Linked DNA regions of Homo sapiens. The protein of the gene in region 2 purifies or fractionates together with the protein of the main gene of each other region. This does not show direct contact. Each region holds a gene or a part of one and is shown on either strand. Other genes may lie near its edges. The genes, in order: PRMT8 and AFM.

Region 1 (3,821 bases), on a different chromosome or scaffold from region 2:
TGAGAGCGGCAGGAGCACGCCTCCACGTGTGTCAGTGGGTGGTGGGGAGCGTGGTAGTGGTCCTAGTTCTGAATTCCACACCTCTTTGTCAAGCACCGGCTCTGTACCAGGAAAGCTAGGTACCCAAGTTCCAAACATGAGGACCACCTGGTCCCTCCTCTGGAGGGGCTCACAGTCTCATGGACAACTATGATGGATAATCCTGTAGCCACCTTTTCCTGCTTTTTGTTGTTTATCTCATTCCATCCTCACAACAATCCTGTGAGATAAGCAAAGATTAGTATTCATTTCTTATACCCATTTTATAGTTGAGGACACCGAGGCTGAGGTCAAGCAATTGCTGAAAGTCTTCTGGTGGGTTAAGTCAGCCCTGAAACACAGACTGCCCCCACTTCTGATTCATTGCTGTTTGCCCTGCCCTTGCTATTTCTAACAAGATGCCATGTGTGAATGGGAGTAGATGAGGAGTGGGCAGAGAGGAATACTTTGGAAGGGAGAGATGCAGTGATGGAGGTGGGCAAGGATGGGAGAAAGTGTTCGTTCAAAAGCTAAAGCTACGGAGAGATACTCTAACCATTGGGCAGGAAGGGAGCAAGTGAAGAATAAAACTACTTACATTTTGACCAAAGCCTCCCTCCACAAAGCGAAGTACCCAGCTAGGGTACGAGAGCATCAACATCACGTGCTTGCTGGACACTGTTGGCAATGGGTGGCCCTGGGGGCACTCTTCAACCGCTCTGACCTCAGTTCCCTTCTCTGTTAACTTGAGCTGATTCTCCTCATGGAATAGGGCAGGTATGGGTATAAGGAAATGCCAGGACAGCCCCTGGCACATGGCAAACACGCAATAGTGTTAGTTCCATGTACGCTTTCTCCTGATCACTCAGCTATGCTTCTCTTCCTCGGCTAAGGGAATCACCATTCTGCCAGCCTCTTCTCCCTCTCCCCTGTTCCCTAGGTGTCATGAGAAACCTCCTCTGTGGCCTTCTGGAACATTTGCAAAGCCTCCAGTCCCACTCTCCTCTTCAGCCCATTGTCAGTGCCCAAGACACATCATCTCACCTCTGCCCTCACTAAGGCACTTTCCTCTGAACTGTTTGTCCTCTTCTCTAATCAAGCCTCATAATCCTACTGTACTGGATCAGCTTTCTGAAGCACAAATCTGCTCATGATCAGGCATCTCTTTAAAAACTTAGGATGCTGTCCTATTGCCTACAGGACGCTAGATAAAGCCCAGTTTCCTTAGCATGGTGTGCAAAGCCCATCAATACCTGCATCATGCAATTCTTGGAAAAGACCTCCGACTGCATATGTGAATGCTTCTGTGCATACTCTTCCCTCTGCCTGTGCCGGTCTTTCCTCCTTCTTCTCTCTGGAAAACAATCTTTTTCAACCTGCAAGACCCAGCTCAAACGTTACCTCCTCTGGGCAGGCTTCCCAGATCTGCCATTTATCCTCTCTCCCCAGGGAGGGGCATTACCCTTTCTTATGTGTTCCTAACGCCTGTCTCTCACTTTTCCTATTGCAAGATAATTGGCTTTTTGTGTGTCTATTTATATGTCTATTAGATAATGCACTTTTTTTTGAATTTGTGGGCCTGACACACAATAAGTAATAAATGTTAATAAATGTTGACTGAATTGATGTATGTGATTGTGAACAAACTCTTGAGCCTAATGGGCTTTAGTCACTCATGGCTTCCTGGAAATTGGGATTCCTATCTCCCACCCCACCTGTCTGCTGTACTTAGTTGCTGTGAACCTTTGAAACTCAAAATGGGTAAATATTCTGGGAATCAAGGTGCTGAAGCCAGTCAAATCATGGGTACATTTTGGTTATTCATGTACTTATTCAATATTCAGTAATTATCGACTCTTACTATGGAGTGCTCATCTGAATAGCAGATAAATGGATTAATCACAATGCCCAATTATGAACCATGGGGGATAATGGACCCTCCTGAGCTACTGCTTGCTTTACTGATACTTGGTGAAAGTCTGATGCATGATGCATTATTTATGGCGATGACTCCCTGATTAGGGTTTTATCACCTCAAAGGAGAGCCCCCAGGAGTTGGGAAACAGTTTTAGCAAAGAGTCACTTTGGAAACTGATATATATATATATATTTTTTTTTTTTTTTTTTTTTTTTTTGAATGTTCTGTTGACTTGCTGGCCCAGGGAGAGGGAATAATTACAGGTTGGAAAAAATCCTACAATGTGACAATGAGATTAGGGGTTGCAGTGAGTTATGGGGATAACTGAGCTGACTTCTTGCATGGTGTATCTTGGTGGTTTTGGCTAATAGATCTTTCTCCTCAGGAAGTTACTTTCAGCTGAAGAATGTGGTCCCATTATTACAGGGGTTAGGGAATTGAGGAAGAGGAGGAACCAGGCATAGTTCTCTGAGGATGGTCTTCATCTATGTCTGTTTCTGCAGAGTGTGTACACTAACTAGTAGGCTATGGAGACAGACTTCCTGGTTTTCAATCCAGTTCTGGACCTAGTAGATGTGTTGCTACATTGAGCAAGTTGCTTAATGTCTCTGGGCCTTTTAAGATTGTTGTGAAGATGAAAAGGGTTAATTTATGCAAAGGAATTAGAACATTGCCTTATACATGGTGAGTTCTCAATAAGCGTTTATGATTATTATCCTGCTAGCTTTTAGGAGTCTTGCCAAAAAAGTGCAAACTGAAAGTATTCTCCCACTTTCTCATTTCTGTAGCTGAAATGATCCATAAAACCATAGTCCATGTGACTTTTTCCTCCCTCCGCAAACACTGATTTCAGTCCTTAAGTGAGCTCAGGAGAATTAAGAAGATACCCAATTTTTTTTTTTTTTTTTTTGCCTGGCTAATTTGGCTTTTCAGAGTCCTAAATTGGCTTTTGGCTGTCAAAGACAGTGAAACACAACACTCCTGTCTCCAATTCAGGAGTGGGTTTCATTTCCTCCTCTTTGCTAACTGCAATGTGAAGTGATTATCACATACCAGTGTGGAACATGCAAAAATCTGTAAAAACAGTCCTTACACCTTGGAGTCTACTCTGCCAGCAGGGGGAAAATGGGCAGCCTGAAAATATGTGAACAGCCAAGGTAACTGAAAGCAGCCTCTGTGTGTGAGAAGCAAGCAGGTGGTGCTGTTGTGAACTGGCTTAGTAACAAGATAGAGTGAGCACAGGCAAGAAGGGACCTCTGAAAGGTCATTCTGTCCATGCCTCTGTCCCTGAGAACCACCTAACCGAAGATGCATTGTTGGCCACTTGGTCTCTTGTTAAAAAGCTTCAGAGAAGGGAATTTCCCCAAACTCCTCGAGTGTCTCAGTAGTCGGAAGTTCTCCCTGAAGTCTGAGCTCAACCTCTTCGATTGCAATCTGAGTCACCTTCGTTTATGTTATTCTAAAAAGAGATGAAAACTGGCTGCTACCTTTTCATTTGGGGTTGTCTCACCATTTTTACTAGTTTTTGTTCCAATTGATTCCAATCCCTTTTTCTGATATTCTGGTATTAGACTTCTAATAGGAATAGCTAGGAGAGGAGTGTTTGAGATTTGCCTCTCCAGTATTATCCAGCCAAAATAGCCACTGGATATTTCACACATCAAATGTCTTTTCTTACTTCACTTGTTATAAGAATTCCCTCAAGCATCACAGTTTTTCCCATATTTGTAATGAGTGGCCCATAAGTAAAGATCTCTTTTTAAAGTGTAATTTTATATTGAGCAAACAGCTTGATGTGCGTATTTTCATAAAGTCATAGAATGTTAAAGTTGGGTGGAAACTCAAATCACTTAAGTCAGGAGATAGGAACTACTTGTCCAATATC
Region 2 (4,323 bases):
TTGGGGTCAGGAGTTTGAGACCAGGCTGGTCAACATGGCAAAACCTCATCTCTACTAAAAATACAAAAAAATTAGCTGGGCATGGTGGTGCATGCCTGTGATCCCAGCTACTAGGGAGACTGAGGCATGAGAATTGCCTGAACCCAGGAAGTGGAGGTTGCAGTGAGCCAAGATTGCCACTGCACTCCAGCCTGGGTGACAGAGCGAGACTCTGTTTCAAGAAAAAAAAAAGAAGGAAAGAAAGAAAGAAAGAAGAAAGAAAGAATGAAAGAAAGAAAGAAAGAAAGAAAGAAAGAAAGAAAGAAAGAAAGAAAGAAAGAAAGAAAGAAAGAGAAAGAAAGACATAAGATAAAAGGAAAAGAAACACAAGCAATTTACTTACAGGTAATTTTGAACACTCTGGGAGCGTCTTGTCAGCCATACATCTGTCTTTGTATTCTACCATGTCTTTCACCAGCTTTTCCATTTCTTCAAAGGTTGCTTCCTGAACATACTGAGCAAATGCAATGATGGTGCTGCAACAGTTCACATGGGGTATACAAAGATCAGTTGCAGAGTTTCCATTTATGGTCAAGAAAAAGTCACAGGAACATCCTGACTAGCCTCAGGAAATTATCTATTGTAATGGCTATAAATTTTACAACTTCTTTGCCTGAATTTTATAATTAAAGTTGTCTTCTTGGATATGGCTTCTATTTAGTTAAATTACTTTTGAGAAGCATTAACATTTCTAGAATATATCATTTTAAAAATCATCATCAAAAAGTATTTAGCACAACTCACATGTATTCAATATTATCTTCTATAAATTTTTGAGTACTATTGAAGTTCTCTGAAAAGCAAGAATATTTAGGTTATTACATAGCATGGTTTTCTAACATTTTTCAAATAAATAACTATACATGGCATTTAAGTGTATAAAATACAAAATAGACCACTGATGACAGGAGATAATTTTGCATATTTAACAAGAAACAAATAAGTCATGTGAACAAAATAGGAAATCTTAGTCATTGTTGATTATGTGTTCAAGAAATATTTACCAAATTGAATTGACCTAAATAAATCTTAATCTGACTAGACTTTAAATTTGCCATTGATGGCTCCCCAGATAGAAATGTCAAATACATTACCATGCTAAATGTCTATCATTTATGACTAGAGAAGTGATATGAAGATTAACTAATGGCTGATTCAATGCCATAACAGAGCCTGATGAGAGATGCTGTAGCATGCTGGTGGTCAGCATAGTTTTTAGCGCTACTCAGTCACAGCTATTTAGGTCATCTCCAGATCCACCTAAAATCATGGATTCCCTCCCAATGAGCATACACTAATTGGAGCATATTTATGTTTGTTCACATAAGCTACATTTATTTTTTGCAAAGTGTTGTGCTGGACCCTGTGAAGCAATCAACAATGACTAAAATATCTCCCCTTGACATCAGGTTCCTAAGCTGCTCTCTAATAGAAGTTACTCGTGCATGTGACAATAATCTAATTTAGAATGGGATTAAGTTGGGAATGCTTTATGAATCCTGGGTGAGAAAGAAAGAAAAAAAAGGATTATAGGAGGAGTGAGATATGAGTTGAGCATGAGTAAATGTAAGAGATTCAGCTGACGGAAAAATGAAAAACCCTGTCTGTCTGTGTGGAGAGAGAATGATGTGAATAAATGCATTAAGAAATCTTGAGAAGTATTTAGGGAAAGTCAATCTATTTTGATGAGAAAGTGGGTCACAAAGAGGAATAATGGTACCTAGGATAGAAAGAACCTGGGCCCAGATTATAGGAGTCTTGTATATAAAGCTAAGGAGTATGGGCTTCATTTGGAAGACATGGAGAGCCCTGGAAAATGTTTATATAGGATAGTAATCTGATCATTTCTATACACTAAGAAATACGAGTCAGGTAGTGGTATATGTAATGTCATGGGACTTTCCACAGTGCCAGACAAATAGAAAAAGGTAGAAAGAACTATTGTCAAATAAATGGGCAAAAGAAGGGTGGATGGGACAAAGTAAGAAGGCCATAGGAGACTTTGCAACTGTCACACTGAGAAATCAGCAAGATCTAAATTTTGGTAGGAGTAATGGAAATGAAAAGGAAAATATAGATACAAAAGATATTAAAGAGGCAAAAAATCAAGATTTTGAAACAGGTTGTTACGAGGGAAAAGGAGCAGGAAAACTCAGAAATGACCAGTCTTCACTAGCTGGTATTGTAGGGGCATGTCAAATTGAGTAAGACACGTAAGACACGATCCATGCCTTCAGGGCCACTGCCATGCTTAGGGCACATTTGTTCAAGTCAAAGAAAGGAGCTCCTTCTAGGCCAAAAAGGATTAGAAAAAGACACCTCCTCTAGACATATGAGGTTCAAAATATTTCCCCTTTGGATGGAAGAAATAAAAAAAGTCATCCCTTCCTACAGACTGAGATGGCCTTGGCCAGGCTCAGGAGGGATGTTCAAACTGTACAGTTGAAGGAGGAACTAGGTTCTGCATTCCATAAAGATATAGTTGGGAAATATGTTGGACAACCAAAGGTTCCAGAAAAATCCCAGTTAACATCTATTGTTCCACTGTTACCATAAACTATACATATATGCAAGAAATACCAACATTAAAATCCAAATGTATCTCCCAGCAACACTTTCTGTCCTGTCATAGACTGCTGATTATTCTTCAGATGTGACAACTCTTTCTTCATATAGACTTGGTAATATAAAAATTACCATCAAAATAAAAATTCTGAAAAGGTTAGTTTTGGATAACTGGTTAGCCTATGTAAATTAGTGAGAGGGTGAAAAAAGCAAGTAAAGAATTAACTTGAAAGAAAACAAAATTTTAAAAATAGAAATTATCCTAACTGGTCATGCTTTAGCTGATATACAAGTAAATTTCTTACCTATATCCCGAGGTTGTGTGGGCAGGGTTAGGGATTCAGTCAAAAAAAACAAGAAAAAAATAAAACCTGTAAGTTTTAGTAGTTTCATCTTTGTAGAAACCACATTTACAAAAGAAAGTAATGTTGTTGAGGAAAATCAAGTTTTTATATCATTCTTTCACATTATCAGTAAAAAAGTAACCTATTTAATCTATTTCTGAAATACTGAGTATTTGATTTTTTTGATCACTCTGCAGAATTCTTGCTAAATATTAACCAGAAAAAAAAATTACCTTTGTGTTTCGCTGGAAAAAATCTACTGAGTTGGAACAAAAGTCCACAGGCTAAGTATGCACAATACTTAATCAAATAGACAACCAAAAAAAAACTTAAAATACTGCAAATGTTAAAGGAACAAAGGGCCAGAACAGATATAATCAAGCAATCTCTCTTATGCATATATATCCAAAGGAAGTGAAATCAGTATCTCAAAGATATATAAATATGTACGCCTACTATGTACTCACAAAAATTAAAAATAAAAAATTAAGAAGATATACCTGCACTTCGGTGTTTATTACCTCATTATTCACAATAGCCAAAATATGAAAACAACCTGTCAGTCAACATATAAAAAACTAAATAAATAAATAAATCTCACACGCACACACACACACACACACACACAATGGAATACTATTTAATCTTTAAAAAGAAGGAAATTCTGCCATATGAGAATATGTGGATGAACCTGGAGAACATCATGTTAAGTGAAATAAATCAGACACAGAAAGAAAAGCACTGCATAATCCTACTTATATGTGGAATCTAAAAAATCAAACTAGAAACAGAGCATAAAATGGTGGTTATCAAGGGCAGGAGGTAGAGGAAATGGGGAGATGCTTGTCAAAGGGTGCAAAGTTTCAGTTACGTAGAATGAGTAAGTTCAAATGCATCACATGGACTACAGCTAATAATACTGTATTGTATGCTTAGAATATGCTAAGAGACTAGGTCTTAAGAATTCACACTGTCTTAAAAGAAAAAAAAATAGATAACTGGCTGGGCGTGGTGGCTCACACCTGTAATGCCAGCACTTTGGGAAGCCGAGGCAGGTGGATCTCTTGAGGCCAGGAGGTCAAGACCAACCTGCGCCAACATGGCAAAACCCTGTCTCTACAAAAATTAGCTGGGAGTGGTGGCATGCGCCTGTAATCCCAGCTACTCAGGTGACTGAGGCATGAGAATCACTTAAACCTGGGAGGCAGAGGTTGCAGTGAGCCGAGATCGCGCACTGCACTCCAGCTTGGGGGACAGAGCAAGACTCTGTCTCAAAAATAAATAAATAAATAAAATACGTCAAGAGACGGATGCGTTGATTAGCTTGGCTGTAGTACTCAAGTCACTATGTATATGTATTCAAAACATCATCTTG

What was found.
Region 1: the proteins of AFM (region 2) and PRMT8 purify together in Homo sapiens (affinity purification with mass spectrometry; one large-scale study listed by BioGRID and IntAct). This does not show direct contact.

What each region holds. Positions count from the first base shown.
Region 1 is NC_000012.12:3,494,088-3,497,908, forward strand, and holds part of PRMT8 (protein arginine N-methyltransferase 8), read left to right. Parts: intron 1-3,821. UniProt on the Homo sapiens protein: S-adenosyl-L-methionine-dependent and membrane-associated arginine methyltransferase that can both catalyze the formation of omega-N monomethylarginine (MMA) and asymmetrical dimethylarginine (aDMA) in proteins such as NIFK, myelin basic protein, histone H4, H2A and H2A/H2B dimer.
Region 2 is NC_000004.12:73,480,450-73,484,772, reverse strand, and holds the start of AFM (afamin precursor), read right to left. Parts: upstream 3,029-4,323; 5' UTR 2,998-3,028; coding exon 2,910-2,997; intron 833-2,909; coding exon 784-832; intron 516-783; coding exon 383-515; intron 1-382. UniProt on the Homo sapiens protein: Functions as a carrier for hydrophobic molecules in body fluids. Essential for the solubility and activity of lipidated Wnt family members, including WNT1, WNT2B, WNT3, WNT3A, WNT5A, WNT7A, WNT7B, WNT8, WNT9A, WNT9B, WNT10A and WNT10B. Binds vitamin E.